Regions from separate parts of the Homo sapiens genome. Here region 2 is linked to region 1. The links come from fine-mapping of genetic effects on gene expression. A gene starts in region 1. The other region holds a variant in brackets. All regions are shown on one strand. Distances are from middle to middle.

Region 1 (14,842 bases):
ACTTCCCATTAGCAGGAGCTCCCCAGCGGCAAGCCTGGCCCAGTGGGCTCGGTAGTGCCCAGCTGGCAGGCCTGAGGTGTACATAGTCCTTCCCGGCCATATTAACCACACAGCCTGAGCCTGGCCCAGCCTCGGCTGCCAGAGGTGCCTTTGCTAGGCCCGGAGCCGTTGGCCCGGGCCGGCCTTGCCCTATTCCTCTCCTCCTCCTCCTCCTGGGTCCCCCAGGGTGGCTGGGCTTGGGCTATGTGGGTGGTGGTGGCGGGGGGTCTTGGGGGCCTCTCAGCTCCCGCCCATGCCTCCCTGATGGGTGGGCCCAGGGCGGCCTCTCTCTGAGGAGACCTCACCCACTCCTCGCTCAGTTTGACCACTGTAAGTGCCTGCACTCTGTATTCTATTAATAAACTAAAATAAAGGGAAGACGCTGCTGGTGGCTGCTGTGTGGGCCTCTTGTGTTAGTGTTCAGGCTGGGGACATGGGTGCCACCTCCATCAGGCCTCCCATAAGGATGCCCAAGTCCCTGCACTCATAAGTGCCTCCCATCTCCCTGAGGGCTCTGCTTTCGGGGGTGTCACCTTTCAGAGGAAGCCACTCGATACAGGGGAGAGCTTTTACTTTCCTTAGCATGTGAGGAGTGGGAGCAGATATTCTCTGACCCCCTGCACACCCCCACGTGCACAGGCCTGGCTGCTGCCTGGTGAAGCGGGGACCCCAGCGCTCCACCCCCTTCCTACCCTCAGGCCCTGCTTCTCTCACCTCGTGGGGAAGCCCAAGCCTCGTGGCCCAACTGGGGCTCAGTTAAACTTTGCTTTCTGATTTTTCTCTTGTGCCAGGCGACCACCTCCATCGGCTCCCGCACGACCTTTCTTCTGAGCTTCGTGGGAGGCCCCTCCCACCTGTCTGGCTGCCCCCTCGGGGGCCGGTCTGTCCTGGCTGGTGTCCCTGAGCCCCAATCAGCAGGCTCTTGTGATTTTCTGACCATAATTTATTGACTCCAATGCCCAGGCCACACCACCCTTTGTTATAGGAGGCTTCTGCCTAGACTTTGGCCGGGCCATCCCTCATGCCTGTGTGGGGCCCCTGCAGGAGAGGGGCCGGGGCAGGTGGTCTTCCAGGCCCCCTTCCTGGCATTCTGTTACCAGACCTCAACCTGGCTTGGAGGGCCCAGGTTTCCTTGTTAGGCCCTGCCCCGCACCAGGCAACGCTAACACAGGATGGGAGGCTTAGGCTAAGGCACATTTACAGTAGAGGGGCCAGGAAATCCGAGGCTCACGTTCCAACGCTGCAGTGCCCACCATGTGAGATTTCCAGGACCGTCGGTGCAGCCACTGAGCCGTCCCTTCTACAAGCCAGAGGTGTTCCCTGCCCGCTGAGGACGGAAGGAGACTCATGGGGCCAGACCGCAGGCCCTGACTGCACACTCCCGTTTTGGCAGGAAACTAAAATTGGGGAGGGACCCCCAAGTCTCATATGCACACACCCTGCTGCCCCTCCTTTGTCCCGTTCTTCCTTCCATGGCAGGGGCTACGTGGGCACCGGGCGCTTGTCCTGGAAGAAGCGCTTGAGCGTGCAGACCTGCAGCACAGCCACCAGCAGCAGCACCGCCACGTTGACAGCTGACCAGAAGTTGACCCGCTCCAAGTTGCCCTCTTGCAGGTTGCGGTCACGTGCCTCGAAGGCCCGCAGTAGCGTGAGCATCTGGATGCTGCGCTCCAGCCGGGTCCGCATGGTCTCAATGGACTCCTACAGGGCAGCGGGAGGGGAAGGGTCAGGCCTCCCTCCACCCATCAGGGAGCAGAGACCAAAAAAACCGGGGGATACGGAGGGAGGCTGTATTAACCCTGGGAGGTACAGCTGCAAACACAGACTTGTTCAGGCTAAGTTCAAATCCTCACCCTGCCACTCACTGGCTGTGACCATGAGCAACTTAATTAACCTATCTGAGCCTGTTTCCTCTTCTATAAGCTTCCAAATTGCTGTGAACATTTAATGCCTAAATAAATGTACAAGGATGAGCATGGTGGCTCATGCCTATAATCCTAGCACTTTGGAAGGCTGAGGTGGGAGGATCGCTTGAGCCCAGGAGTTTGAGACCAGCCTGGGCTACATGGCAAAACCCCATCTCTACAAAAAATTAGCCAGGGGTGGTGATGTGCAACTGCAATCCCAGCTACTCAGGAGGCTGAAGCAAGATTACACCTGTAATCCAAACACAGGAGGATCACTTAAACCCAGGAGTTCAAGACCACCCTAGCCAACATGGTGAAACCTCGTCTCTACAGAAAACAAAAAATTAGGCATGGTGGTGCACACCCGTAGTCCCACTGAGGTGGCAGGATTGCTTGAGCCCAGGAGTTTGAGGCTGCAATGGGCTATGATCACACCACTGCACTCCAGCCTGAGTGACACAGCAAGACCTTGCCTCGCCGTAGCTCACACCTGTAATCCCAGAGCTTTGGGAAGCCAAGGCAGACAGATCCCCTGAGGTCAGGAGTTCGAGACCAGCCTGGCCAACATGGTGAAACCCTGTCTCTACTAAAAATACAAAAATTAGTCAGTCAGGCGTGGTGGCACAGCTATTCAGGAGGCTGAGGCAGGAGAATTGGCTGAACCTGGGAGGCAGAGGTTGCAGTGAGCTGAGATCGTGCCACTGCAATCCAGCCTGGGTGACCAAGAGAGATCTGTTAGAAAATAAATAAATAAGTAGTTAATTAAAATACTAATAAATGTACAGAACATATTTGCTTGTGGTTAAGAGCATAGTTGCTGAAACCAGCATGGGTTCAATACCAACTCTGCTAGTTGGTCTGTGTGGCCGTGAGTTGCTCAGCCATCTTGTATCTCACTTTCTCCACCTGTAAAATGGGGATGACTTGAGCACAGGGTCTGCTTCACAAGGTGGTTTGGAGATTTACGGTATGAGTTATTTATGATATGAGTTCCTTAAACCTTTACACCAGGGTTTATACCTAGAAATGAACTACTTTTTTTTTTTTTTTTTTTTTTGAGACGGAGTTTTGCTCTTATTGCCCAGGCTGGAGTGCAATGGTGCGATCTCGGCTCACTGCAACCTCTGCCTCCCAGGTTCAACTTCCACCTCCTGGGTTCAAGTCATTCTCTGGCCTCAGCCTCCTGAGTAGCTGGGATTACAGACGCCCGCCACCACACCCGGCTAATTTTTGTATTTTTAGTAGAGACGGGGTTTCACCATGTTGGCCAGGCTGGTCTCAAAACTCCTGACCTCAGGTGATCCACCCGCCTCAGCCTCCCAAAGTGCTGGGATTACAGGCGTGAGCCACCGTGCCCGGCCTGAAATGAACTACTTATTTTAAGAGCTGCTACTCTTACTATAATTCAGTTGGAGGGCACAACTACGGAGGGGAGGCTGGGTCAGCCCAAGGGGGGCACCCCAGGTGAATCCTAGAGATCTGGAAGGAGTGGCCCCAGCGCAGCCTGGACACACCTTGATGTCCTCCATTTTAACATCCAGCATCTCCTCGGGCTCCACAGCCTCTGCCCATCCTTCGACCTCCTCGTCATCCTGGAGGCTGTCAAAGATCAGTTCAAAGAACACCAGCTTCTCGGAGATGGTGCTGAAGGAGTTGTCAAAGCACAGCTTGTAGTCCCCGGCCTCCGTTGGCTCCACCCTGGGCAGACAGACACACAGACATGACCCAGGGTGGCCAGCCAGCCGACTCAGCGGGGCAGTCAGGGCGGTAACCTGAGGCCGCCTGGGAAGGGCAGGGCTGTAACTGAACCCAGGCAGGCATCAAGACTGAACTCACGTGTGTACCCCATCAGCCTTGCGGGACTCGCTGACCAACAGCACGCCCTGAGGGCTCTCCAGCGTGAAGTCCACGTCCAGTCCAGCACCTCCGATCACCTGGGGGGCAGGTAAGAGCGGGTGGAGGGCTAGCGGTAGGCCAAGGGCGCCTGCCGAAGAGGGCTACGGCTGAACCAACACTGATCAATACAGACCACCAAGGGCTTACCTGAACGGCGGCACACCCACACCCGCCCCAACCTGTCCCAGTGGCTGCGCCCCTTGCCTCCACCCTCATTGATATGACAGCTTGGGGTCCATACTTTCAGCTGACCACGCACCTACCAAAAGTACTTAATGGACGTTTACCTGACCACGCCCCTGGTTGGCTCCGCCTCCGAAAGAGGATAGGCCCAGCCTTTTTCCTTAGTCTAACCCCCGAGAAAGGCCTGTGTGGGCAACGCCCCCGCAGTTGACCTATCAGCACTATCGCCACGCCCACCAGCCAGAGTCCTGTCCTCTCAGAGGCTCCCTATACTTATCGATGGCCCCGCCCCCTCTGGATCTCTTACTCTAGCCCCGCCTGCTTCATTACTCCCTCCCCTTCCGCTCCCACACACCGTCCCCGCCCCATCTGTCCATCTCTTTCTAGCTCCGCCCCCGCGCTCCCAAGCACGGATTCCTCCCCCTTCCTCCTAAAGCGCGCCTCGCCTCGACCGCTTGGCCACGCCCCCTCTCCCTGACTCTGCTGGCCGCCCAGCCCGCGACCCTCTACCTGGTATTCGGTCTCGAGGCTTGCGTTGGCCGGCGCGGACTGGTAGAAACACTGCTTCCTCCCCGCCGGCAACAGGAACGTGAACTCACCGTCCTGGATTGGCGGGGGCCCCGCCCCTCCCACCTCCACTGGTGGCATTAGTAGCCACAAGGCCAGGGCTAGGGCCGCGCCGGCCGCCATCATCCGGGTCACCCTCTGGTCTGCAAAGGGGTCGCGGCTCCTTTAAGCGCTAGCCCTGCCCCGGTGCTACTCGGCGGAGCTCATTGGCAGTGGCTTCTGTATGTTGTCCGTAACCAGAGGTGCCAGGAGTGAAGGACCCCCCCACTAGAGGGCAGGCGGCCCGAATGAATGCCTGATGTGCCCAGAAACACTCAACCGTCTGGGAATATTTTTCTCAAAGGCTTCGGCTCTCTTCTCGGCCGCTGGTGGAGGAAAATTACAAAAATAAGTGCCATGATGGCGCATCTTTTGTAGGCAGTAGCTAAGACAACTAAAGTTACAGGCGGCAGGGTCCTTTTTAGTCACCTCCACGTGGTTTTCCCAGAGTGCGCCGCGCGTGACAACCTTTGGCGGGACCGACGTGGTGGAGTGGACCCAAAAATAGCGTCTAGGCGTGGCCCTGTACGCGACCCGTAGGGCTCGCCTATAAAAGGGCTGGGGCGGGGCGGAGATACCTGTGGCGTCGTGTTTTGCTTGCTCTGTGAGCGTGGTCCAGGTTCGACGCCTTTTGCGCCTTAGAGGCATCAGCGTATCAGTTTCCTCGTAAGTCGGGAGTGATGGAACGACCACCCTGTAGTGCGGCTGTGAGAATTGAGATGAGGCTTGGTTCATATTGAGTGCTCAGCTTTCCTGGCTTATAGACAGTGGAGGGGCGTGGCCCCACCATGCACCCCAAGGGTCTCAGACTCAAGGGCCAGCAGGTAAATAGAGCCATTACAGTAGCCTCGGGTCAGAAAAACGACAGCCCAGGTAGGAAGAGATAAGGACAGTGTGGGACTGGGAGCCACGTTGCCTGGTTCAGCTCCTGCCCCACCCATTACTTGAGGCATTCCCTCTGTTGAGCCTCAGTTTCCTCTTCTGCAAAATGGGGATAATAGGCCTACGCTACTGGGCTGTCTTTAGGATACGTGAAATGCTTGTTGAGTGCTTGCTTCCGCAGTGCGTGGGACATCACAGGCCCTCAGTAAATAATAATCTGTTATTTGGTTCCCGTCTAAACATAAACTGTGTACAGGGAGATGTTTAGTCTTCAAAGATAAACCCGGAAAAGGTTGGCAGGTGATGACAAAGATCCCTCAAATACAGCTGGCTGTTGTCAGCACTTTCCTGCATTTGGAGAATTTGGGGAAGTAGCTCTTTGTAATATCAGTTTGGTATTCCTTTTCACTCCAACTTTTTCTATCATTTACACTCACTGCTTGGACAATTTGAAGTAACAGTGGAGAACGGGTGACTCCTTTTCTTTTTTTTCTTTTTTTTTTTAATTTTTTTTTCCTTTTTTTTTTTTTTTTTTTTTGAGACAGAGTCTCCCTCTGTTGCCCAGGCTAGAGTGCAGTGGCGCGATCTCGACTCACTGCAACCTCCGTCTCCTGGGGTTCCAGCGATCCTCCTGCCTCAGCCTTCCGAGTAGCTGAGACTACAGGCACGTGCCACCACACCTGGCTAATTTTTTGTATTTTTAGTAGAGAGGGGGTTTCACCATGTTAGCCAGGATGGTCTCGATATCCTGACCTTCTGTTCCATCCACCTCGGCCTCCCAAAGTGCTGGGATTGTAGGCGTGAGCCACTGCACCCGGCCGGATTTTTTTTAGGACAGGGTCTTGCTCTGTTGCCCAGGCTGGGGTGCAGTGACGCCATCATGGCTCACTGCAATCTCTACCTCCTGGGCTCAAGTGATTCTCCCACCTCAGCCTCCTGAGTAGCTGGGACTACAGGTGTACACCTCCATGCCTAACTAATTTTTTGTAGACATGAGGTTTCCCTGTGTTGCCCAGGCTGGTTTCAAACTCCTGGGCTCAAGCCATCTGCCTGCTCCCTCACCCTCCCAAAGTGTTGGGATTACTAAAATTGATTTTTTTAAATACAGTAAAATTCACATTGCATAAAATTAACAATTTTAAGGCCGGGTGTGGTGGCTTACACCTGTAATCCCAACACTTTTGGAGGCCAAGGCAGGCGGATCATGAGGTCAGGAGATCGAGACTATCCTGGCTAACACAGTGAAACCCCGTCTCTACCAAAAATACAAAAAATTAGCCAGGCGTGGTGGCGGGTGCCTGTAGTCCCAGCTACTCTGGAGGCTGAGGCAGGAGAATGGTGTGAACCTGGGAAGCGGAGCTTGCAGTGAGCCCAGATGATGCCACTGCACTCCAGCCTGGGCGACAGAGCAGGACTCCGTGTCAAAAAGAAAATAAAAATAACCATTTTAAAATTAACAATTCAGTGGCATTTAGTACATTCCAGTGTTGTGCAGTGACTTCTATGTAGTTCCAAAACATTTTCATCGGCTCAGTAAAGATCCCTGTACCCATTAAGCAGTGATTCTGAAACGGCCTCGTTGTCTTGAGTAACACCCGGGGTCGTTGTCTCACAGCCACGAAGAACAAGGACCAGGACACACAAAAGAATGAGGTTGAGAACGAACGTTTAATAGGCAACGGAGAGTATAGCTCTCTGCTACAGAGAGGAGTCCCAGAAAAATGGGTTGCTGGTCCATAGCAAAATACAGGGGGGTTTATAGATGAGCTGGTGAGGAGACTTAGCCTGATTTACATAGGGGATGAAAAACTGGTTAGAACAGGTGTGCCATTTGCATAGGGTGTGAATTTCTGGTATCTGCTAATCTTTTATTATGCAGCCGGGGTCTCTACCTGAGCTGTGCCACATCGCCCATTTCTTTTTCTTTTTTTTTCTTTTTTTTTTTTGAGACAGAGTCTTGCCCTGTCACCCAGGCTGGAGTGCAGTGGCGTGACCTAGGCTCTCCGCAACCTCCGCCTCCCAGGTTCAAGGGATTCTCCCGCCTCAGTAGCTGGGATTACAGGTGCCTGCCACCACGCCCAACTAATTTTTTGTATTTTTAGTAGAGACAGGATTTCACCATGTTGTCCAGGCTGATCTTGAACTCCTGACCTCATGATCCGCCCACCTTGGCCTCCCAAAGTGCTGGGATTACTGGTGTGAGCCACCTTGACCAGCCCCATGTTGCCCATTTCTTAGTTCCTGTACACGTGGTAGCAAAAAAGGGGAGATGGAGCCTCCGTGTTGGATATGCCTGGCTCCCAGGTAGCCATTTTCTGTTGGTGCAGCTGCCAGCATTCCCACGTGCAAGCTTCCAGCTTCCTTATCTATGTTTGCAGCTTGAGTTTTCAGGCTGCTATTTATTAGAAAAGAAATGATATCAGGGGCTACTTTCTGTTAGAAAAGAAATTCTGCTGAGGACTCTTTGCCCTCACTGCCTGCCTAAATACTTTCTATCTCCTGTATCAACTCCTCATTACACTTTGCCCCCCGCCTCTCAACTAGCTATGTGCTTTTTGCCTCTAGGGATTTACCTACTCTGGATATTTCATATGAATAGAAGCAGACAATGTGTCACCATTTGTATTGAACTTCTTTTACTTAGCATGTTTCTAGGGTTAGACCATGTATCAATATTTAATTCCTTTTTATGGCTGAGTAGTATTCTATTGTATGTACATACCACAATCAATTTTTCTTTTGTTCTTTTTTTTTTTTTTTTTGAGACAGTCTCGCTGTGTTACTCAAGCTGGAGTGCAGTGGTGTGATCACAGCTCACCGCACCCTCCACTTCCCGAACTCATGTGATCCACCTCAGCCTCCCAAGTAGCTGGGACTACAGGTGCACGCCACCACACCTGGCTAATTATTTTTCTGTGGAGACAAGAGGTCTCCCTGTGTTACCCAGACTGGTCTTTAACTCCTGGGCTTAAGTGATTCTCCTGCCTCAGTGCCCAAAGCGCTGAGATTACAGTTGTGAGTCACTGTGCCTGGCCCCACAATTTCTTTAGCCATTCATTATTGAGGGACAGTAGAGTTATTTCAACCTTTTAGCTATTGTGAGTACAGCTGCTGTTAACATGTATGTATGTGTATTTTATTACTTGCGTTCAGTTCTTTGGGGTATAGATCTCGTGGTGGAATTGCTGGATCCTATGGTATTTCTATGTTTAACTTTTTGAGGAACAACCAAAGTGTTTTCCACAGTGGCTGTACTGTTTTCCATTCCCACCAACCACGTATGAGGGTTCCAGTTTCTCTACATCCTCACCAACACTTGTTACTTTGCATTTTGTTTTTTGTTTTGTTTTGTTTTTGAGACAGTCTCACTCCTTCACTTTGGCTGGAGTGCAGTAACTGCAATCTCCATCTCCCAAGTTCAAGTAATTCTCCTGCCTCAGCCTCCCAAGTAGCTGGGATTACAGGCACATGCCAACACACCCAGCTAATTTTTGTAATTATAATAAAGACAGATTTTTGTTTTTGTTTTTGTTTTTGTTTTGTTTTGTTTTGAGACGGAGTCTTGCTGTATTGCCAGGCTGGAGTACAGTGGTACCATCTTGGCTCACTTCAACCTCTGCCTCCCAGGTTCAAGTGATTCTTCTGCCTCAGCCTCCTGAGTAGGTGGGACTATGGGCGCATGCCACCATGCCCAGCTAATTTTTGTATTTTTAGTAGAGACGTGGTTTCACCATGTTGGCCAGGATGGTCTCAATCTCTTGACCTCGTGATCTGCCTGCCTCAGCCTCCCAAAGTTCTGGGATTACAGGCGTAAGCCACCGCGCCCAGCCTAGAGACAGGTTTTTGCCATGTTGACCAAGCTGGTCTCGAACTCCTGACCTCAAGTGATCTGCCCACCTCGGCCTCCTAAAGTGCTGGGATTACAGGCGTGGGCCACTGTGACCGGCCCTGTTTTGTATTTTTTGTTTGTTTGTTTGTTTGTTTATTATAGCCAACCTAGTGTATGTGCATTTCCCAAATGATTAGTAAGGTTGAGCATCTTCTTATCTGCTTCTCGGTGGTGTGTATATCTTCTTTGGAAAGGTATCCATTCATGTCTTTTGCCCATTTAAAAATTGGGTTGTTCATCTTTTTGTTGTAGGAGGTTTTTTAAACACATATTATAGAGAGGAAAAGATAGAAAAGTGAAACAAAAAAACTTCTCTAGCTGGACCCTCATGCTTGTAATCCCAGCACTTTGGAAGGCTGAAGCCAGAGGATCTCTTGAGCCAAGGAGTTTGAGACCAGCCTTGGCAACGTAGAGAGACTCTCCCGCTCCTACCACCATCTTTACAAAATAATAAAATATTAGCCAGTTGTGGTGGCATGCACCTATAGTCCTAGCTACTCAGGAGGCAGAGGTGGGAGGCTCGCTTGAGCCCAGGAGTTCAAGGCTGCAGTGAGCCATGATTGGCCCACTACACTCCAGCCTGGGTGACAGTGAGACCCTGTCTCATAAACACACACAAAAAAATACCCTCTCGCGGCCGGGCACAGTGGCTCACGCCTGTAATCCCAGCACTTTGGGAGGCCGAGGTGGGTAGATCACAAGGTCAGGAGATCGAGACCATGTCCCTTGAGTAAACAAAACCAAAAACTCTCCTCCCTAATTATTCACCAAATATTTACTGAGCCTCTGACAGTGAATAAAACAGACACTGTCAAAGCCAGGTGGAGTGGCTCACGCCTGTAATCCCAGCATTTTGGGCGGCCAAGTTGGGAGGATCTCTTGAGCCCAGGAGTTCCCGACTAGCCTGGGCAGCATAGTGAGATCCCATCTCCACAAAAACATTTTTTAAAAAATTAGCTGGGCATGGGAACAATCCCATTTCCTGAGGGAATGGGAGGATCTGTCTACTTTTCTTATCCTGATTCAAATGGAATGCCAGTGTGGCAACTCCTAGGATTTGTCACGAATGGGAAGCCAAGTGCCATCTTCAAAATTTCAGGTCTTAAATCTGGAGAAGGAAGCCAACATCCTTTTGGAGCCATGAATATTGTCCGAACTCCATCTGTTGCTCAGATTGGAATTTCAGTGGAATTATTGGACAGTATGGCTCAGCAGACTCCCGTAGGTAATGCTGCTGTATCCTCAGTTGACTCATTCACTCAGGCCCAGATGACACCAAGCCCATCTGAAATGTTCATTCCGGCAAATGTGGTTCTGAAATGGTATGAAAACTTTCAGTGATGACTACCACAGAACCATCTCTTGGAAAACATAATTTGAATAAAATACTTTTTTTTTTTTTTGAGACGGAGTCTCACTCTGTCACCCAGGCTGGAGTGCAGTGGCGCGACCTTGGCTCACTGCAAGCTCCGCCTCCCGGGTTCACACCATTCTCCTGCCTCAGCCTCCCGAGTAGCTGGGACTACAGGTGCCCGCCACCATGCCTGGCTAATTTTTTGTATTTTTAGTAGAGATGGGTTTTCACCGTGTTAGTCAGGATGGTCTTGTTCTCCTGACCTCGTGATCCGTCGGCCTTGGCCTCCCAAAGTGCTGGGATTACAGGCGTGAGCCACTGCGCCTGGCTAAAATAATTTTTAATGGAAAAAAAAAAAGTAGCTGGGCATGGTGGCACACGCCTGTAGTCCCAGCAACACAGGAACCTGACTCAGGAGGATCGCTTGAGCCCAGGAGGTTGAGGCTGCAGTGAGCCATGATTGCACTACTGCACTCCAACCTGTGCAACAGAGAGAGACCCTGTCTCAAAAAAAAAAACCAGAATTCCAGGTTGTAGATTCCTTCACCATATTGACTCAGGATTTTTCTTAGCCACTTTGCCAGCCGGGGACATCTATGGCCGGCAGTGCCCCCTACCACCCGCAAGGGCATGACACTGGAGGCACCCTGCCCACTCAGCCCACCTGTGTTATAGCTTGTATCTGCATTCGGCAGTTCTCAAGCTCTTGTCCTGCATCCAAGAAGAATGAGGAAATGCTGACAATTGAAGGGTGAAGATGGGAGGAGAATTTTTTTGAGCGACAGAACAGCTCTCAGCAAAGAGGAGATGTGGGGGTGTGGTTTATCTTTCAGTGTGGCTGGATCCGGGGCTTTTTATGGACTCAGAATGGGGAATGTGTGCTGATTGGATTGTGAGTGTGCAAAAAAGGTTAAAGCGAAGACACCACTCAAAGGTGGGTCCAACAGTATAGAAAACCAATTAGGAAAGGGTAGGTATATGCAAACTAGGTGGAGGGTGGGGATCAATCTGAGGAAAGCACGCCAAATAGAAGACAGATTCTCTGTCCAGTCCCTGGATTTGACTTGTAGCTTTGCTTTCAGGCTTTAAACTGTCTTTGGCTTGGAGGTGGGGTTTCACCAGGGACCTGCCCCTATCTGCCTAGGCATTTGTCTGCCTCTTGCCACTATCAATATCAATCAGAAGGCTTCCCTGACCCTGCTGTAGCTGGGTTGAGCCCCCTCGGCCACTGCCTCTGTTACTGCACTTCACCACTGGACTCTCCTTGTCTTCTTGTCTGACTCTTGAACGCTGAGCTCCTTGAGGACAGGAGCCATTTTCATTCATCCTAATGTCTCTGGCACAATTCTGGGAACATGATGATGCTCAGTACTCAGTTGGTGGAAAAAATAAGCCAGGAATCTCTCTTAACTCCATCTCCTGTACACCCAGTATACAGCCACAGAAGTGGCTTGAATGGATGTTTTTTTTCGCTGTCAGGTCAGATGATTGAGAAATATTTATGATGTGCCAAGCATGGTGGGAGACACGGGACACTGCAGGTAACAACACAGACCCCATCCTTGTGCTCCGAGAGGAGGAGGAAAGCTGTGTTAAGATATCATGAAGGCTGGGCATGGCGGCTCATGCCTATAATTCCAACACTTCGGGAGGTGGGCGGATCATTCGAGGTCAGGAGTTCAAAACCAGATTGGCCAACATGGTGAAATCCTGTCTCTACTAAAAATCCAAAAATTAGCCAGCCGTAGTGGTGCATGCCTGTAATCCCAGCTACTCAGGAGGCTGAGGCAGGAGAATCACTTAAACCCGGAAGATGGAGGTTGCAGTGCAGCCGAGATTGCGCCACTGCACTCCAGCCGGGGCGACAAAGTGAGACCATGTCTAAAAAAAAAAAAGGCTGGACACGGTGGCTCACGCCTGTAATCCCAGCACTTTGGGAGGCTGAGGTGGGTAGATTACGAGGTCAGGAGTTCAAGACCAGCCTGACCAACATGGTGAAACCCTGTCTCTACTAAAAATACAAAAATTAGCCAGGCATGGTGGCACACGTGTAATCCCCGCTACTCAGGAAGCTGAGGCAGGAGAATCGCTTGAACCCAGGAGGTGGAGTTTGCAGTGAGATGAGATCGCACCACTTCACTCCAGCCTGGGTAACAGAGTGAGACTCCGTCTCAAAAAAAAAAAAAAAAAAATTTAAAAAGCTAGGCGTGGTGGCTCACGCCTGTAACCCCAGCACTTTGGGAGGCCAAGGTGGGAGGATTGCTTGAGCTCAGGAGTTCATGACCAGCCTGAGCAACATAGCAAGACCCTGTCTCTGTTTAAAAAAAAAAAAGAAAGGCCGGGTGCAGTGGCTCACGCCTGTAATCCCAGCACTTTGGGAGGCTGAGGCGGGCAGATCACAAGGTCAGGTGATCAAGACCATCCTGGCTAACACAGTGAAATCCCGTCTCTACTAAAAAATACAAAAAATTAGCCGGGCGTGGTGGCGGTTGCCTGTAGTCCCAGCTACTCGGGAGACTGAGGCAGGAGAATGGCGTGAACCCAGGAGGTGGAGCTTGCAGTGAGCCGAGATTGCGCCACTGCACTCCAGCCTGGGCGACAGAGCGAGATTCCATCTCAAAAAAAAAAAAAAAAAATGAAGGAGGCTGGGCGTGGTGGTGGCTTACGCCTGTAATCCCAGCACTTTGGGAGCCCAAGGTGGGAGGATTACTTGAGCCCAGGAGTTTGAGACCAGCTAGGCAATGTAGTGAGACCCTTTCTCTACAAAAAAAAAAAAAAAATTTAGCCAGGTGCCGTGCATGCCTGTGGTCCCAGCTACTTGGAAGGCTGAGGTGGGAGGATCACTTGAGCCTGAGAGATGGAGACTGCAGTGAGCCATGATTATACCACTGCACTCCAGCAGCCTGGGCAAGAAAGCAAGACCTTGTCTCCAAAAAAAAAAAAAGGCATGAGGATGAATTCAATAAATTCAAGAATATTCTGTGTACTACCTTGACCAAATTGTATTAATATTTAGAGAATATTATACCAAACAACTACACCGTGTACTTGAATTTCTAGCGTACGTACAATGTGGATCGAGATACCCTGCACCATTCTAAAAAGTCAGTACATTTCAAAGTATTGAAATTATATGACCACAAAGGAGTTAAAAATCATTAACAGTAAGCTGCCCCCCAAAAAGCCCAAGTACTTGGGCATTAAGCAACACACATATTCTCTGGATCATAGAAAAGAAAGCACAATGGAAATAAGCAAATATTTCTAACTTAATGACGCTCAATATATGAAAATGTGTGGCATGCAGTTAAAACAGTTCTTGGAGGGAAAGGTGTACCTTTAAATGCTTGTATTAGAAGATAAAGGTGGGCCGGGTGCGGTGGCTCACGCCTGTAATCCCAGCACTTTGGGAGGCCGAGGCAGGTGGATCATGAGGTCAGGAGATCGAGACCATCCTGGCTAACATGGTGAAACCCCATCTCCACTAAAAATACAAAAAATTAGCCATGCATGGTGGTGGGTGCCTGTAGTCCCAGCTACTCAGGAGTCTGAGGCAGGAGAATGGCGTGAACCTGGGAGGCAGAGCTTGCAGTGAGCCGAGATCACGCCATTGCACTCCAGCCTGGGCGACAGAGCAAGACTCCGTCAAAAAAAAAAAAAAAAAAGAGGGTTTAAAGTTAATGAGCTGCCTGTAATCCCAGCACTTTGGGAGGCTGAGTCAGGAGGATTGCTTGAGCCCAGGAGTTCAAGATCAGGCTGGGTAACATAATAGGACCCTGTCTCTACAATTTTTTTTTTTTTAATTAGCCAGGTGTGGTGGTGGACACCTGTAGTCCCAGCTACTCAGGAGGCTGAGATGGGATGATCTCTTGAGCCCAGCAGGGTGAGGCTGCAGTGAGTCATGATCATGCTGCTTCACTGTAGCCTGAGCAATAGAGCAAGACCCTGTCTCAAAAAAAAAATGTTTTTTTGTTGTTTTTTTTTTGAGACAGAGTCTCGCTCTGTTGCCCAGGCTGGAGTGCAGTGGCATGATCTCAGCTCACTGCAAGCTCTCCTTCCCGGGTTCACGCCATTCTCCAGCCTCAG
Region 2 (15,697 bases), 96 kb before region 1:
GGTCTTGCTGTCTGGAAGTATACATACTGAGAAATTTTATTTTTCAAACAAAATCACCCCTTTTCCTGTCTTAGGACTGGACATTGCATCTAGTTGTCGGATCTCCTTAAGCCTTTTTCTGGTCTGGGAAGCAACTCAGCCCTTCCTTGTTTTTTATAACCTTGGTAAGTCATGGAATGTCCCTCAATTAGGGCTTATCTGGAATTCTTCATGGTGAGCCTGGGGTGTGAGTTTTGGGGAAGAAGGCCATTGGTGAGGTGCCCCTCTCTTCTGTGAATCTTTTTTTGTTTGTTTGTTTTTTGTTTTTGTTTTTTTGAGATGGAGTCTTGCTCTGTCGCCCAGGCTGGAGTGCAGCGGCGCGATCTCAGCTCACTGCAAGCTCTGCCTCCTGGGTTCACGCCATTCTCCTGCCTCAGCCTCCCGAGTAGCTGGGATTACAGGCTGCCACCATGCCCGGCTAATTTTTGTATTTTTTTTTAGACGGGGTTTCACCGTGTTAGCCAGGATGGTCTCGATCTCCTGACCTCATGATCTGCCCGCCTCTGCCTCCCAGAGTGCTGGGATTACAGGCGTAAGCCACCTCGTCCAGCCATCTTCTGTGAATCTTATCAGGAGTATAGGATACCAACAAGACTGATAAATTATTGACAGTGATAACTGATGATGCTGACCTTGATCTCTTGGCTGAGGTAGGCTTGCTAGGTTTCCCCACTGGAAAGTTACTAGTTTTCTTCTTTTCATACTCTATCCTTTGGGATCATGGAAAATTTTATTTTTATTTTATTTTTGGAGAGTCTCGCTCTGTCATCTAGGCTGGAGTGCAATGGTGTGATATTGGCTCACTGCGACCTCCGCCTCCCGGATTCAAGCGATTCTCCTGCCTCAGCCGCTTGAGCAGCTGAGACTACAGGCGCCCACCACCACGCCCGGCTAATTTTTTTTTTTCAAGAGATGGGGTCTCGCTGTGTTGCTCAGGCTAGTCTCAAACTCCTAGACTCATGTAATAATCCTCTTGCCTCTGGCTCCCAAAGTGCTGGGATTACAGGCATTAACCACTGTGCCCGGCCTTTTCTGGCACTATTGAAAAGACCATCCTTTCTCCCTAAAGTTGCTTTTGTCTGGAATTAGTTGGCCATATTTGTGTGGGTCCAACCTGAACTGTCTGTTCTGTGACGTTGATGTATGGCTCTGTCCTTTCTCCAAAACCACATATCTTTCTTCTCTTTTTAGATAGAGATGGGGGCTGGGCACAGTGGCTGACGCCTGTAATCCTAACACTTTGGAGGCAGGTGGATCACTTGAGGTCAGGAGTTTGAAACTGGCCTGGCCAACATGGTGAAACTCCGTCTCTACTAAAAATACAAAAAAATTAGCTGGGCGTGGTGGTGGGTGCCTGTAATCCCAGCTAATTGGGAGACTGAGGCAGGAGAATCACTTGAACACGGGAGGTGGAGGTTGCAGTGAGCCAAGATCGCGCTATTGCACTCCAGCCTGGGCAACAGAGTGAGACTCTGTCTCAAAAAAAAAAAAAAAGAAAAAAAGAAAAAAATAGAGATGGGGTCTCACAATGTTGCCTAGGCTGGTTTCAAACTACTGGGCTGGTGATGCTCCTGCCTCAGCCTTCCACAGTGCTGGCATTATGGGCGTGAGCCACCACGCCCACTCATTTCTATATTGCTGTAGCTTTATAGTAAGACTTGAAATCAGGCCATGTGAGTCCTCTTTTTTCTTGTTTCTCAAAATTGTTTTGTCTAGTCTAGTTCCTTTGCCTCCACATATATATTTTAGAATCAGCTTGTTGATTTCATAGAAAAGATCATTGTGTATTAGTACGTGGAAAGCCACGGTATTAGTTTTTTGTTTGTTTGTTTGTTTGTTTAGACAAAGTCTCTCTCTGGCACCCAGGCTGGTGTGCCAATAGTGTTGGGATTACAGGCGTGAACCACTGTGCCCAGCTGGTACTGGTTTTTATAACTGTGTATTATTCCATCCACTGTCACTACTTCCCCAGGACCAGTACAGTTTCTGCCTCCTCAGTCTTGCACCTTTAACCTTGTCCTCACCCCCAGGCTGTTCTCCCTGCAGTGGACAGAGGGAGCCTGTTAAGAATATCCTTCCTAGCTGGGCGCCGTGGCTTACGCTGTAATCCCAGCACTTTGGGAGGCCGAGGTGGAAGGATCTCTTGAGCCCAGGAGTACGAGACCAGCCTGGGCAACATAACGAGACCCCCATCTCTACAAAACATTTAAAAATTAGCCAGGCATGGCAGCGCATACTTACAGTCCCAGCTACTCAGGAGGCTGAGGTGGGAGGATTGCTTGAACCCAGGAATTTGAGGCTGAAGTGAGCTGTGATCCTGTCAGTGCACTCCAGCCGGGGAGACAGAGGGAGACCCTATATCCTTCCTCTACTTGGAATCCTCCCTGGCCCTCAGTTCCCTCAGGGTAAAAATGAAGTCGTCCCTGAGGCTCCATGATGTTCTCATGCAGGTGAGGCGCTGTCCTACCTCATGGCTTTTTCACATGCTGCTTCCACTGCCTGCACTGCCCTTCCCCCAGATAACCCTGTGGCTCATTTCATCAGCATTCTAAGGCCTCTGCTTAAAAGCCTCCTTCTCAAAAGGCTCTCCCCCTGGCCACTCTGCTCAAACGCCCCACCCTGTTCTCTCTGTCCCCTTCCCCTGCTTAATTTTTCTTGGAACCACTTGTCATTCCTGTCATTGTTCCACCTATGCGTTTGGTTTCTTGTTTTCTTTTTTTGGGGTGGAGTCTTGCTCTGACTCCCAGGCTGGAGTGGAGTGGCGATCTTGGCTCACTGCAACCTCTGCTTCCCGGGTTCAAGCGATTCTCCTGCCTCAGCCTCCCAAGTAGCTGGGATTACAGGCGCACGTCAACATGCCCGTATATTTTTGTATTTTTAGTAGAGACGAGGTTTCACTATGTTGGCCAGGCTGATCTCGAACTGCTGACTTCAGGTGATCTGCCAGCCTTGGCCTCCCAAAGTGCTGTGATTACAGGCATGAGCCACCGCACCCGGCCTATTTGTTTGATTTCTCTTTCTGTCTCCCCCCACTAGAAGGGGAATGCCCCATGGTAGGGCGGTGCCCCTGGCTGTAGCGCAGTCCCTTGCATGGTGCCTGGCATGCGATAGGTAATCGGGGCACCCATCTCCCTCTCGGGATGCACTCATTGATGTACTTGTCAATCACTGAGCAAGACCCACTCAGCAATGTCTGCTGAGCCTGCTCTGTGCCAGGCTCTGACCTGAACTGCCACCCTTCTGGAGTCAAACAGGCCTGGTTGCCACCAAGAGGAGTTAGGCCTGGCAGAGGAGACAAGCATTAGTCTCACAACAGAAGGAAGTAGGCCGGACGTGGTGGCTCATGCTTGTAATCCCAGCACTTTGGAAGGCCGAGGTGGGCAGATCATCTGAGGCTGGGAGGTGGAGGTTGCAGTGAGCCAAGATCACGCCGCTGTACTCCAGCTTGGGTGAAAGAGCGAGACTCCATCTCAAAAAATAAATAAATAAATAAATAAATAAAAAGGAAGTGGAGACTTTCATTGAGATCAGTATCAAAGGGCACGAGGTGGCAGGGCATGGTGGCTCACGCCCATAGACCCAGCACTTTGGGAGGCTGAGGTGGGAGGATTGCTTGAGCCCAGGAGTTTGATACCAGCCTGGGCAATATAGTGAGACCTCATGTCAACAAAAACAGACAAAACAAAAAAAACAGGGGAGGGAGGGCTACAGGAGGGTGGGATGAGGACTGGCCACAGTTGGAGGCCAGGCCCTTCCTGGGGATCCCAGCGGTTGTTACTCTTTAAGAAGGACCTGGCCTGGTGTGGTGGCTCACGCCTGTGATCCCAGCACTTTGGGAGGTTGAGGCGGGTGGATCACTTGAGGTCAGGAGTTGAAGACCATCCTGGCCAACATGGCAAAACCCCATCTCTATGAAAAATACAAAAAAAAGTTAGTTAGCTGGGCGTGGTGGTGGGTGCCTGTAATCCCAGCTACTTGGGAGGCTAAGGCAGGAGAAGTGCCTGAACCCAGGAGGCAGAGGTTGCTGTGAGCTGAGATCGCACCGTTGCACTCCAGCCTGGGCAACAAGAGCAAAACTCCATCGCAAAAAAAAAAAAAAAAGGCTGGGCTCAGTGACTCACGCCTGTAATCCCAGCACTTTGGGAGGCCGAGGTGGGCGGATCACGAGGTCAGGAGATTGAGACCATCCTGGCTAACACGGTGAAACCCCGTCTCTACTAAAAATACAAAAGATTAGCGGGGCGTGGTAGCGGGCGCCTGTACTGTAGTCCCAGCTACTCAGGAGGCTGAGGCAGGAGAATGGCTTGAATCCTGGAGGAGGAGCTTGCAGTGAGCCGAGATCACGCCACTGCACTCCAGCCTGGGCGACAGAGCGAGACTCCGTCTCAAAAATAAATAAATAAATAAAAGAAGGACGTGTTCCCTTGTTCTTCTATGGGGACATGGGGAACTCCTGTACTGTTTTATTTTCCTGAAATATTTTTATTGAAATATAATTCACATACCATAATACCTAATCCTTTTGAAATATACTATTCAGTGGATTTTAGTATATTCACAGTTGTGTAACCAGCACCACTATCTGATTTTGTAGCACTTTCATTTCCCCTAAACCCATACATATGAAGCAGTTCCTCCCTCCCCCAGCACCTGGAAGCCACTAATGTCCTTTCTGTCTGTGAATTTGCCAATTTTGGATATTTCCTATAAATGGAATCTTACAGTATATGGCCTTTTGTGTGTGGCTTTGTTTATTTAGCATCATGTTTTCAAGATTCATCCATGCTGGTTGGGTGCAGTGGCGCACGCCTGTAATCCCAGCATTTGGGAGGCTGAGGCGGGCAGATCACTTGAGGGCAGGAATTGATGAGACCAGCCTGCCCAACATGGTGAAACCCCTTCTCTACTAAAAATACAAAAATTAGCTGGGTGTAGTGGCACATGCCTGTAATTCCAGCTACTCTGGGTGGCTGAGGCACGAGAATCTCTTGAACCTGGGGGGCAAGGTTGCAGTGAGCCGAGATCACTCCACTGCACTCTAGCCTGGGCAACAGAGCAAGACTCTCTCTCTCTCTCAAAAAAAAAAAAAAAAAAAAAAAAAAGAATTCACCAATGAAGCCACCTGGGCCTGGACTTTTCTTTGTGGGACGTTTTTTGAATACTAATTAAATTTCTTGTACATCTATTGAGTTTTTCTGTGTCTTCTTGAGTCAGTTTCAGTAATTTGGGTCTTTCTAGGAATTTGTCCATTTCATCTAGGGTGTATTTAATTTGTTAGAATAGTATTCCCTTATCATCTTTTTTATTTCTGAAAGGTTGGTAGTGATGTCTCCTCTTTATTTCTGATTTTTGTAATTTGAGTCTTATCTCTTTTTCTCTTGGTTAATCTAGCTAAAGGTTTGTCAGTTTGGTTGATCTATTCAAAGAGCAAATTGTGGTGGTGTTAACTTCTCTCTCCATTTTTTTAGTCTCTTTATTTCTTCTCTAATTATTTCCTTCTTTTCTCTTTGGATTTGGTTTACCCTCCTTTTCTGAGGTTCTTGAAGTGGAAGATTATTGAAATCTGAAAGTATTTGAAATCTTTCTCTTTTTTTTGTTTTTTTTTTTTGAGACGGAGTCTCGCTCTGTCGCCCAGGCTGGAGTGCAGTGGCACGATCTTGGCTCACTGCAAGCTCCGCCTCCCAGGTTCACGCCATCCTCGTGCCTCAGCCTCCTGAGTAGCTGGGACTACAGGCACCCACCACCATGCCTGGCTAATTTTTGTATTTTTGGTGGAGACGGGGTTTCACCATGTTGGTGAGGCTGGTCTCAAACTCCTGACCTCAGGTGATCCACCCACCTCGGCCTCTTAAAAGTGTGGGGATTACAGGCGTAAGCCACCGCGCCCGGCCAAAATCTTCCTTCTTTTTAAATACAGTTGCTTACATCTATGAATTTCCCTGTAAACCTGCTTTAGCTGCATCCATAAGTTTTGATATGTTGTGTTTTCATTTTCATTTATCTCAGCATATCTTCTCATTTCTCTTATGATTTCTTCTTTGATACATAGGTTATTTAGCAGTATGTTCATTTCTATATATTTGAGAATTTCTGAAAAACATCTTTCTTGTGTTCATTTCTAACTTCATTTCACTGTGGTTGGAGGAACTACTTTGTATGATTTCAATCTCTTTAAAATTATTGAGTCATGTTTTATGGCTTGGCCTCGAATACGGTGTGTCCTGGAGAATGTTCCATATGCACATGATAAGAATGTGTATTTTACTCTTGGGTGGAGTGTTCTGTACACATCTGTCAGGTCTTATTGGTTTCGTATTTTCTATTTCCTTGTTATCTTTTATTTGGTTGTTCCATCCATTATTATTATTTTTCTTGCCTGATACCAATGCTGATATCCATCCATGATTGAAAGTGGGGTATTGAAGTCTCCAACTTTCTTTCTTTCTTTTTTCTTTTCTTTTTGGAGACACGGTCTTGCTCTGTCTCCCAGGCTGGAAACGTGGTGGCATGATCATAGCTCACTGTAGCTTCTGTCTCCTGGGCTCACATGATCCTCCCACCTCTGCCTCCCGAGTAGCTGGGACCACAGGCGTGTGCCACACCCGACTAATTTTTGTATTTTTTCTAGAGGTAGGGTCTTGCTATATTGACCAGGCTGGCCTTGAACTCTTGGGCTCAAGTGATCCTCTCATCTTGGCCTCCCAAAGTGCTGAGATTACAGGCATGAGCCACTGTGCTCAGCCCCAAATTGGCCAATATTTCTTTCTTTTTTTTTTTTTTTTGAGACAGAGTCTTGCTCTGTCGCCCAGGCTGGAGTGCAGTGGCGCGATCTTGGCTCACTGCAAGCTCCGCCTCCCGGGTTCACGCCATTCTCCTGCCTCAGCCTCCCAAGTAGCTGGGAGTACAGGTGTCCGCCACCATGCCCGGCTAATTTTTTTTGTATTTTTAGTAGAGACGGGGTTTCACCGTGTTAGCCAGGATGGTCTCTATCTCCTGACCTTGTGATCCACCCGCCTCTGCCTCCCAAAGTGCTGGGATTACAGGCGTGAGCCACCACGCCTGGCCAATATTTCTTTTGTTCTGTGCTTTTTCCTTCCTCCCTCCCTTCCTCTTTACCTTCCTCTTTACCTTCCTCTTTCCCTCCCTCCCTTCTTTCCTTCCTTCCTTCCTTTTTGTTCTTGTTCTTTTCTTTTTCCTCTACCCTTCTTTCTTTTCCTTCTTTCTTTTTTTCTTTCTTTGTTTTTGCTTGATTGCAGCATCATGAGAGAGTCCTGTGCTTTTTTATAGCTGCAAGTATTCCTGGGTCGAGCCTACTCCCACTAACACTGATCACTCTCCCCCTTGAATTTTTAGGTTATTTCTAGTTTTTCCCCTCCTGCCAGAGACTTGGGGGTCCGCAGGCTTGTGTGTCTGCTATGCTCAGGGTGGATACCCTGCAAGGGAGTGCCATGTTGCATCAGAAGTGGATTTAGAGTGATGTTGCCAGGCCCACCAGGAAAGGCTGTGCCAAGGCTCTTTGCTGGGGTGCCAAGAAGAAGGGTCTGTGCCTGTTGTGGTGCCAGGCATTGACATCCTTCACTCCCACCCCCGTCACCCTCATGAACTAGTGAACTAGTCCTGTGGAATAGGGCCTTATGCGTGCTAGACCCTGGGTTTGTCCTGCTGACAACCCCATAGTGTAGGTGCTGTTATCCCAATTTCATAGAGAAACTGAGGGCTGGGGAAGTGGCAGCCTTCATTCAGTTCCTGCCGTGAGGCTGTGGCTGAGCTGCCAGGCTGCAGAGTCTTCACCCAATGATCTTGCTCAGTTGTCCCCATGAGGAAGCTGAGCCTGGCCTTCCTGTCTCTGGAGTCCAAGGTTTCCTTTCCTTGTGTGCCCCTGGAAGTGCTGTGTGGTGACCGGGATGGTGCCTGGCAGATGGAGATTAGACGCAGGTTGGATTGGTGCCTCATTGGTCAGGAGGGCTGCTCTTAGCTGTGTGCCAATAGACCGGATGACTTAATCTCTCTATCCTTGGTTTCCCCATCTGCAAAACAGGGTTGGCCAGAGCCCTGTGAAGGTGGAAGAAGGCCCTGTGTGCCTGGAGCTTTGTGCAGTGCCCTGGAGATGCTAGCTTGTTTTTCTTTCTTTTTTTTTTTTTTTTTTGAGACAGAGTCTCCCTCTGTCATGCAGGTTGTGGTGCAGTGGCTCAGTCTCCGCTGACTGCAGCCTCAACCTCCTGGGCTCAAGTGATCCTCCCACCTCAGCCTCTCAAGTAGCTGGGACCACAGGCGTGTGCCACCACGCCCGGCTAATTTTTTGTAGAGGCGAGGTTTCATCATGTTGCCCAGGCTGGTCTTGAACTCCTGAGCTCAGGTGTTCCGCCTGCCATGGCCTCCCAAAATACTAGGATTACAGGTGTGAGCCACCACGCCCGGCCGTGATGCCAGCTTCTTTTGCCGTGCAGCTAGCATTTGCTGAACACCTGCTGTGTGCCAGATAGTGTGCTGGAGGCAGGGCAGTGAACAAGACAGACGAGATCCCTGTCCTGTGGAGCTGATGCTCTAGCTGGGGGCCTGAGGGGTGGGAAGGAAGCACAGGTGCTCGGGTGAGAAAAAACATCATGCGGCCAGGCATGGTGGCTCACACCTGTAATCCCAGATCTTTGGGAGGCTGAGGCAGGCGGATCATCTGAGGTCATGAGTTCGAGACCAGCCTTGCAAAACCCCGTCTCTACTAAAAATACAAAAATTAGCCAGGTGTGGCTGGGTGTGGTGGCTCACACCTGTAATCCCAGCACTTTGGGAGGCGGAGGCAGGTGGATCACAAGGTCAGGAGATCGAGACCATCCTGGCTAATATGGTAAAACTCCGTCTCTACTAAAAATACAAAAAATTAGCCGGGTGTGGTGGCGGGTGCTTGTAGTCCCAGCTACTCAGGAGGCTGAGGCAGGAGGATGGCATGAACCCGGGAGGCGGAGCTTGCAGTGAGCCGAGATTGCGCCACTGCACTCCAGCCTGGGTGACAAAGCGAGACTCTGTCTCAAAAAAAAAAAAAAAAAAAAAAAAAAAATTAGCCGTGTGTGGTGGCGTGC[G/A]CCTGTAGTCCCAGCTACTTGGGAGGCTGAGGCAGCAGAATTGCTTGAACTCGGGAGGCAAGGTTGCAGTGAGCCAAGATCACGCCATTGCACTCCAGCCAGGGCAGCAGAGCGAGACTGTTTCCAGAAAAAAAAAAAAAATACAAAAATTAGCCAGACGTGGTAGCATACGCCCGTAGTCCCAGCTGCTTAGGAGGCTGAGGCAGGAAAATCACTTGAGCCCAGGAGGCGGAGGTTGCAATGAGCCAAGATCCTGCCACTACACTTCGGCTGGGGTGACAGAGCCAGACTCCATCTAAAAAAAAAAAAAATTCTTTAAAAATCAGGCACACAGTGTGATCTGACTTGCAGTTTTCCAAGCCTGTGGGGCAGGGAGCCTGGGGGAGGCTTTGCCCTGAGATGGGAGACTTGGCCTCAGGACATTAGAGCGAAACAGAGGAGGAGGGGATGGGTCTGGATATCCAAGGCAGGATCTGCCGAGAGATACGCTGTGGGGGTGGGACAAAGACCTCAAGAACGGGTCCGGGCTGTTCCTGTCACTTGTGACATTGTGGACTGAGTCTGCCTGGATATTTCCTTATGGGCTGGCTCCCCATCACCCCGGGAGAGTCTCGGGGTGGAGGGAACTAGAACGTGTTTGCCTGGAGGTCACTACCTACTCCCCTGGAAGGAAGGGGCTCCAGGAGGCTGGCTGTGGAATGCAGACTGTGGGTGGTGCCCGGCTGCCTGCCTCTAGTTCACTTGGGCCCTCAGGGTGGTACAGAGCTGGAAATCCATACATGGCTGACCACCCTGTAAGGGCTGCAGACACAGTGAGCGTTCACTTTGCCCTGGCAACTGGAACTGTCTCCTCCAGTCCTCACCACAACCGTTTTACAGAGCAGGACACCTGTTGCAAGATGGGAGAGACTTTGCTAACAAGGTCCCACAGCTGGCACTCACCAGGCTGGCTGGGGTACTCAGGCCACCCCTTGCAGTGGGGAGCAGTTAGGATGACACCGAGGACACCCCTAGGAGGGCGGAGTTGTGAGCTCCAGGACCCCACATTTGAGCAGTTTCCCCGTCACTCTTGAAAATGCTGCTGGGCCGGCCAGTTTCTTTGGGGTTTCTCAGTACTGCTGAAAGTTACAAGGTCAACACTGGCCTGCAATCACAGTTATAAAAAAGTTATAAAAGCCTGACATTCAAATCACGTTGGAGACTATAAAACAGCAAGTTTTTCATTTGCACACCTCACATGACCTCAAGCCTGCTGTCCATACACAGGAAATGGGGATGTGCGGAAAAAAAACCCGAAGTGGAGGACATCATCCCCCACGCATAATCCAGTCCGTGCATCGCACTTGACCTTCGGCACTGCAGCCTGCATTGCTCCCCGGACTAGCTCCCAAGATTGATTTAGCCAGTTCCCTGCCAGTGGACATTTAGGTCATTATCGGTTTTCATTCCACAAAGTACTGCCCTCAGGGAGTCGGCTGTCCTTGCCAAACCACTGCATTAATATGTTTCTGGGTGCTGGGGAAAGGGCGCTTAAGACCCCTGCCCTCAAGGTGTTGATATTCTAGTTGGGACTGTTAGATAAATGAGCAATTAGGCTGGGCACGCTTGAAATCCCAGGGCTTTGGGAGGCTGAGGTGGGAGGATCGCCTAGGCAGCATATCACTACAGAAAAACACAAATAAAAAAAGTTAGCTGGGCGTGGTGGCAAGTGCCTGTAGTCCGAGCTACTCAGGAGGCTGAGGGAGGAGGATCGCTTCAGCCCAGGAGTTTGAGGCTGCAGTCAGCTATGATTGCATCACTGCACTCCAGCCTGGATGACAGAGTGAGATCCTGTCTCTGAAAAAAGAGGTGCAAATAAACCAGAAAAGTACCAACTAGTGGGCAGTGCTGTGTTTAGAAGGAAAACAGGGCAACATGAAGGGGAGGTGGGCATCAGTAGGGGACAGACCTCTCTGAGGAGGTGACATCTGAGTTGAGTCCCTGGTAACCGGAGATAGCCAGGATTGTGGAAATACTTGGAGGAGATGAGATGGTCTTTCGAAGCAGGAGGCCAGCATGTGCAAAGGCCCTGCGACAGCAATGTCTGGCCTCCTTGCTGTTTCTTTTTATTTCATTTTTTGAGACGGAGTCTCACTCTGACCTATGCTGGAGTGCAGTGGCATGATCTTGGCTCACTGCAACCTCTGCCTCCCAGGTTCAAGCGATTCTCGTGCCTCAGCCTCCTGAGCAGCTAGGAGTACAGGCACACGCCACCACACCCCACTAATTTTTCTGTATTTTTAGTAGAGACAAGGTTTCACCATGTTGGCCAGGCTGCTCTCGAACTCTGGACCTCAGGTGATCCACCCACCTCGGCCTTCCAAAGTGCTGGCATTACAGGTGTGAGCTACCACGCCCGGCCTTTTTGCTGTTTCTTGACCACCAATGTGGCTGGAGGCAGGGAGTGAGGGGGTGGTGGGGGAGGAGGGCACGGAGGTGACAGGGCCATGGGGGGCACTTGGGAACTGTCAAACCGTCAAATGTTATGAGCAGAGGAGGGTCATGTTCTTACATTGTATCGAGTTTTCCTTTTTGTTTTTTTGAGATGGAGTTTCACTCTTATTGCCCAGGCAGGAGTGTAATGGTGTGATCTTGGCTGACTGTAACCTCTGCCTCCCAGGTTCAAGCGATTCTCCCACCTCAGCCTCCCGAGTAGCTGAGATTACAGGCATGCACCACACCTGGCTAATTTTGTATTTTTAGTAGAGACGGGGTTTCTCCCTGTTGGTCAGGCTGGTCTCGAACTCCCAACCTCAGGTGATCTACCTGCCTCGGTCTCCCAAAGTGCCGGGATTACAGGTGTGAGCAACCGTGCCGGCTTTTTTTTTGTTTTTTGTTTTTTTTTTTTTTGAGACAGTCTCACTCTGTTGCCCAGGCTGGAGTGCAATGGCATGATCTCACAATCTCAGCTCACTGTGACCTCTGCCTCCTGGGTTCAAGCGGTTTTCCTGCCTCAGCCTCTCGAGTAGCTGGGATTACAGGTGCCCACCACCACGCCTGGCTAATTTTTGTATTTTTAGTAGAGACGGAGTTTCTCCATGTTGGCCAAGCTGGTCTCAAACTCCTGACCTCGGGTGATCTGCCCGCCTCGGCCCCGCAAAGTGCTGAGATTACAGGCATGAGCCACCGCACTCAACCAATTTTTTTTTTTTTTTTAGTAGTAGAGACAGGGTCTCATCATGTTGCCCAGGCTGGTTTCAAACTCCTGGGCTCAAGAGATTGCGTGCCAAGGTGCTGGGATTATAGGCACGAACCACTGTGCTCAGCCTGAGTTTTACTTTGATTCGATGGGGCGAATGTTCTCTTTTGGGTATCATGGTAAGAGTTTCACAAACCCTTCCACCTCCTCTCTGAGGCAGGTGGCATCATTCCCACATAACAGATTGGGAAACTGAGGCACAAAGAGGTTACCTGACCTGCCCATCTTGTCCAGAAAGGAAATACTGGATTCCAGCCAGGGCCTGGAGAGTCCCAGAGCCACGATCACGAATTGCCACAGGTCACCTCCTGCTTTTGCTCCCAGCCTGTTGTGTCCCTTGGATGAGACCAGGGAGCAGGTGATGCCACGGCTTGAGTGCCAAGGGCGGGCCTCGAGCCGGGAGCTGCAGGATTCCTGATCAGGGAGGGGCTGCTGGGCTGGGAATGTTGGGGAGGAGTGAGGCCAGGAGTGGATTGTGGAAGTGAGAAGTCTCCTCATCTGTAAAATGGCAGATTTGGCCCATTGTTCTGCAAGCATTGGTCATCTGCCTCCTGCCTGGGTGTGTGTTGGGTACTGGGGAGAGAGCAGAGAAGGGGCCGATACGGGACCCTGCGCCCATGAGGCTGCCACTCTAATAGGATGTTGAGGTGGGGGCAGGGACAGACTGCAGCTGGGTGAACACATCAGGAACCCGGAAGATGCCAGTTGTGAGTGGCACTGAGCATTGAGCGGGTTGATGTGTGAAAGAAGGGGAGCAGCTTCCTATGGCGGGGGGAGGGAGGGTGCAGTTTGCTGGGAGCTGCCCGCCTGCTCTGTTAATGCTGCAGGAAGAAGGTTCCAGGCTGAGGGAACAGCCTGGGCAAAGGCCCTGGGGCAGGACAGTGTCTGGTGTGTTTCGGGAACATGGAGGAGGCATATGTGGCTGGAGTAAAGCCAGCAAGACAGAGAGTAGGGGGAGGTGAGGACAGGAAGGTGACAGGACAGGTCGTGCAGGGCTTGGGGGGCTGCAGGGAAAAGTCTGGCTTTTATTCCAAGTGAAGCGGGAGCCCAAGGAGGGCCCATAACAAAGGGGTTTACAGTGACATGGTGTGCACAGGCACCTTGTGGCTGCTTTGTGGGAGGCAGATTGTGGGGACCAAGGGCACGACTGCACTGGTGTAGGCAGGTGACAGTGGGACACGCTGACAGCCTTGGACGTGGAGGGAATTGAGCAGAATCAGGCCTGATGTGGAGGTGAAACCAGCAGGACTCGCGGCTGGACAAGGCGGGTGGGTGAGGGCCAGGGGAGCCCCAGGTCTGCAGCCTCGTGAGGGGTTTCTCCCCTCCCTGCCCTTTGGGGTGACCACAGGGATGCAGTGGCACCTACCTGCGGACACTGTGTGGGCCGAGCACTGTAAGGCTTGGGCGTCCTTGCTGGGTGACCAATGGCTATTGTTGGAAGGATGAGGCAGGGACCGAGGTGGGCAGAGGAGACTGGGCATGGGTCCCCACTTCTGCTCCAACAGAGCGACAGAGAAGCCCCTGAGGTGGGTGCGGGTGACTGCGGGTCTGCCTCATTGGTGTCCCACCCACATTCGTGTCCTGGCTCTGCTCCTCCCTCGCTGAGCGTCCTGGGCAAGTCCTGAGACTGAACCTCAGTCCACCTGTCTGAAATGGGACTTTTGGCCCTGGCATCCTTGTGACTTTCAACCCCTCTGGGGTTGTCAGAGGATTTGCCGCTATGTTGCCCGAGATGGGGTTAGAGACAGCCTGTTGGGTGGCCAGCGTTCCTTGTGTGGCTCTTATCAGAGTCCTGAGAGAAGAGGCCAGGGTGGAAATTGGCCCTGGAGTGTGGGCTCCTGCCGAAGCCTCTTCCTGTGGCCAGTGCCATGCTGAAGGCTGGCTGTGGTGTCACGTGAGCCCTCCCAGCCACATTCAGGCTCAAAGAGACTGTGCTGAGCATATGGTGACAAGGAAGGGATCCCAGCCCAGGGTCCTGGCCAGGCCCTGCCAGCACCAGGCTGCACAGGTGAGGGGTGGCTTGCCCTGGGGTGCTGGCTCTGGGCCACACTGCTGACTCACCCTCTGTGGGCTTATCTGTTGATTCTCCCTCCCATGGGAAGGCTCTGGGTTTGAGCCTGCATCGTTCCTGCACGTAGCCGTCCCCACCCTCATAGGGGCTGGAAGTCAAAAGGCGCCTGGTGGAGCCTTGTGGTCTGTTCAAAAAACGGTAAATAAACAGCCTGGGCTTCTGATCTGCTGGACTCAACCTGGCACCTCTCCCATCGCTGCTGGGTGCTGCCTCCCAGCTGCACCCTTCCCTGCCTGTCCCCTACCGCCTTCCTGGAGCGCTTATCCCCTTCCAGGGAGAGGTGGCCCACTTTAGAGCTCTGAAACCTGCTCTGGTGGGGTGAAGTGACTTGAGCCAGGCCAAGCCGGTGGCTGGGCCCTCTGTGGCAGACTGGAAGTGTCCTCCCATTTCATGGATGGCCAAGTCAGTGCCCAGAGAGGGGTAGAGACCTGTCCAGGGCCACACAGCCCAGGAGGGGCGGAGCTCGACTTTGAACCCAGGCTGCCTGGCTCCACAGTCTGGATTCTTCTTACCCATTCAACAAATACTTAATGAGCACACACTGTCTGGCAGGCACTGTTCTAGGTGCTGAGGATCTAGCAGTGACCAGGCCAGGTGCAGAAGTCTTGGCGTGTCACAGGACTAGACCTTCATCAGAGGCCGTTTTGCTGGGAGTGGGAAGGGGTGTGTATTTGGGAGGGAGGGGCGCAAGCCATCACACCTGCCCATGGCCAGGTAGGCAGGGCCTATGGGAGGGTTTCCTGGCAGAGGGAACACCCCCTGCAAAGGCCTGAAGGCCAGCAGTGCCAGAGAGAACTCAGAGGAGGCAGGTGCAGGGGGTGGGGCTGGGGAACCCGGTCAGCACTGGGACTAGGACTGGACAGGACGGGCTAGGACCAGTCACTTGGTTTCTGCAAGAGAGAAGCTTGGAGGCAGGATCTTCATTTTAGAAAGGTCACTGGGGAAGGTGGGAGGTTGGGCCAGGACCCTGGGGCCTGGCCTGGGCCCATGGATAGGAGGCCAGGTACTGAAATGATGCAATAGTACTAGGCTAGGTGCAGTGGCTCACACCTGTAATCCCGGTGCTTTGGGAGGCCGATGCGGGAAGATTGCATGAGGCCAGAAGTTTGAGACCAGCCTGGGCAACATAGCGAGACCCTGTCTCTGCAAAAAATAAAAAAATTAGCCGGGCATGGTGGTGTGTGCCTGCAGTCCCAGTTACTTGGGAGGCTGAGGTGGGAAGTTCACTAGGGTCCGGGAGTTCAAGGCTGCAGTGAGGTATGATTGTGCCACTGC

The links. PIP is the estimated chance that this variant, and not a neighbour inherited with it, causes the effect.
Region 2: its variant is fine-mapped to the expression of TMED1 in whole blood (GTEx, PIP 0.95).

The regions. Positions count from the first base shown.
Region 1 is chr19:10,831,474-10,846,315 of GRCh38, forward strand. TMED1 (transmembrane p24 trafficking protein 1) reads right to left here and starts at 4,739. Exons shown (of 4, transcript NM_006858.4): 1 at 4,536-4,739; 2 at 3,783-3,880; 3 at 3,461-3,644; 4 at 594-1,740. The coding sequence starts at 4,718. The coding sequence ends at 1,522. DNM2 (dynamin 2) reads left to right here. Exons shown (of 21, transcript NM_001005361.3): 21 at 1-430. It also overlaps a transcript of C19orf38 not described here and the pseudogene HIKESHIP2. RefSeq lists enhancers at 3,237-3,874, 4,512-5,148, 4,914-5,013.
Region 2 is chr19:10,734,747-10,750,443 of GRCh38, forward strand. The region is part of intron 1 of DNM2 (dynamin 2); the gene reads left to right. Among named protein-coding and RNA genes, the nearest start is that of MIR638, 24 kb to the left of the region's middle. RefSeq lists a silencer at 4,195-4,264 and an enhancer at 13,855-14,669. The variant G/A (reference allele first, on the strand shown) is at 9,114.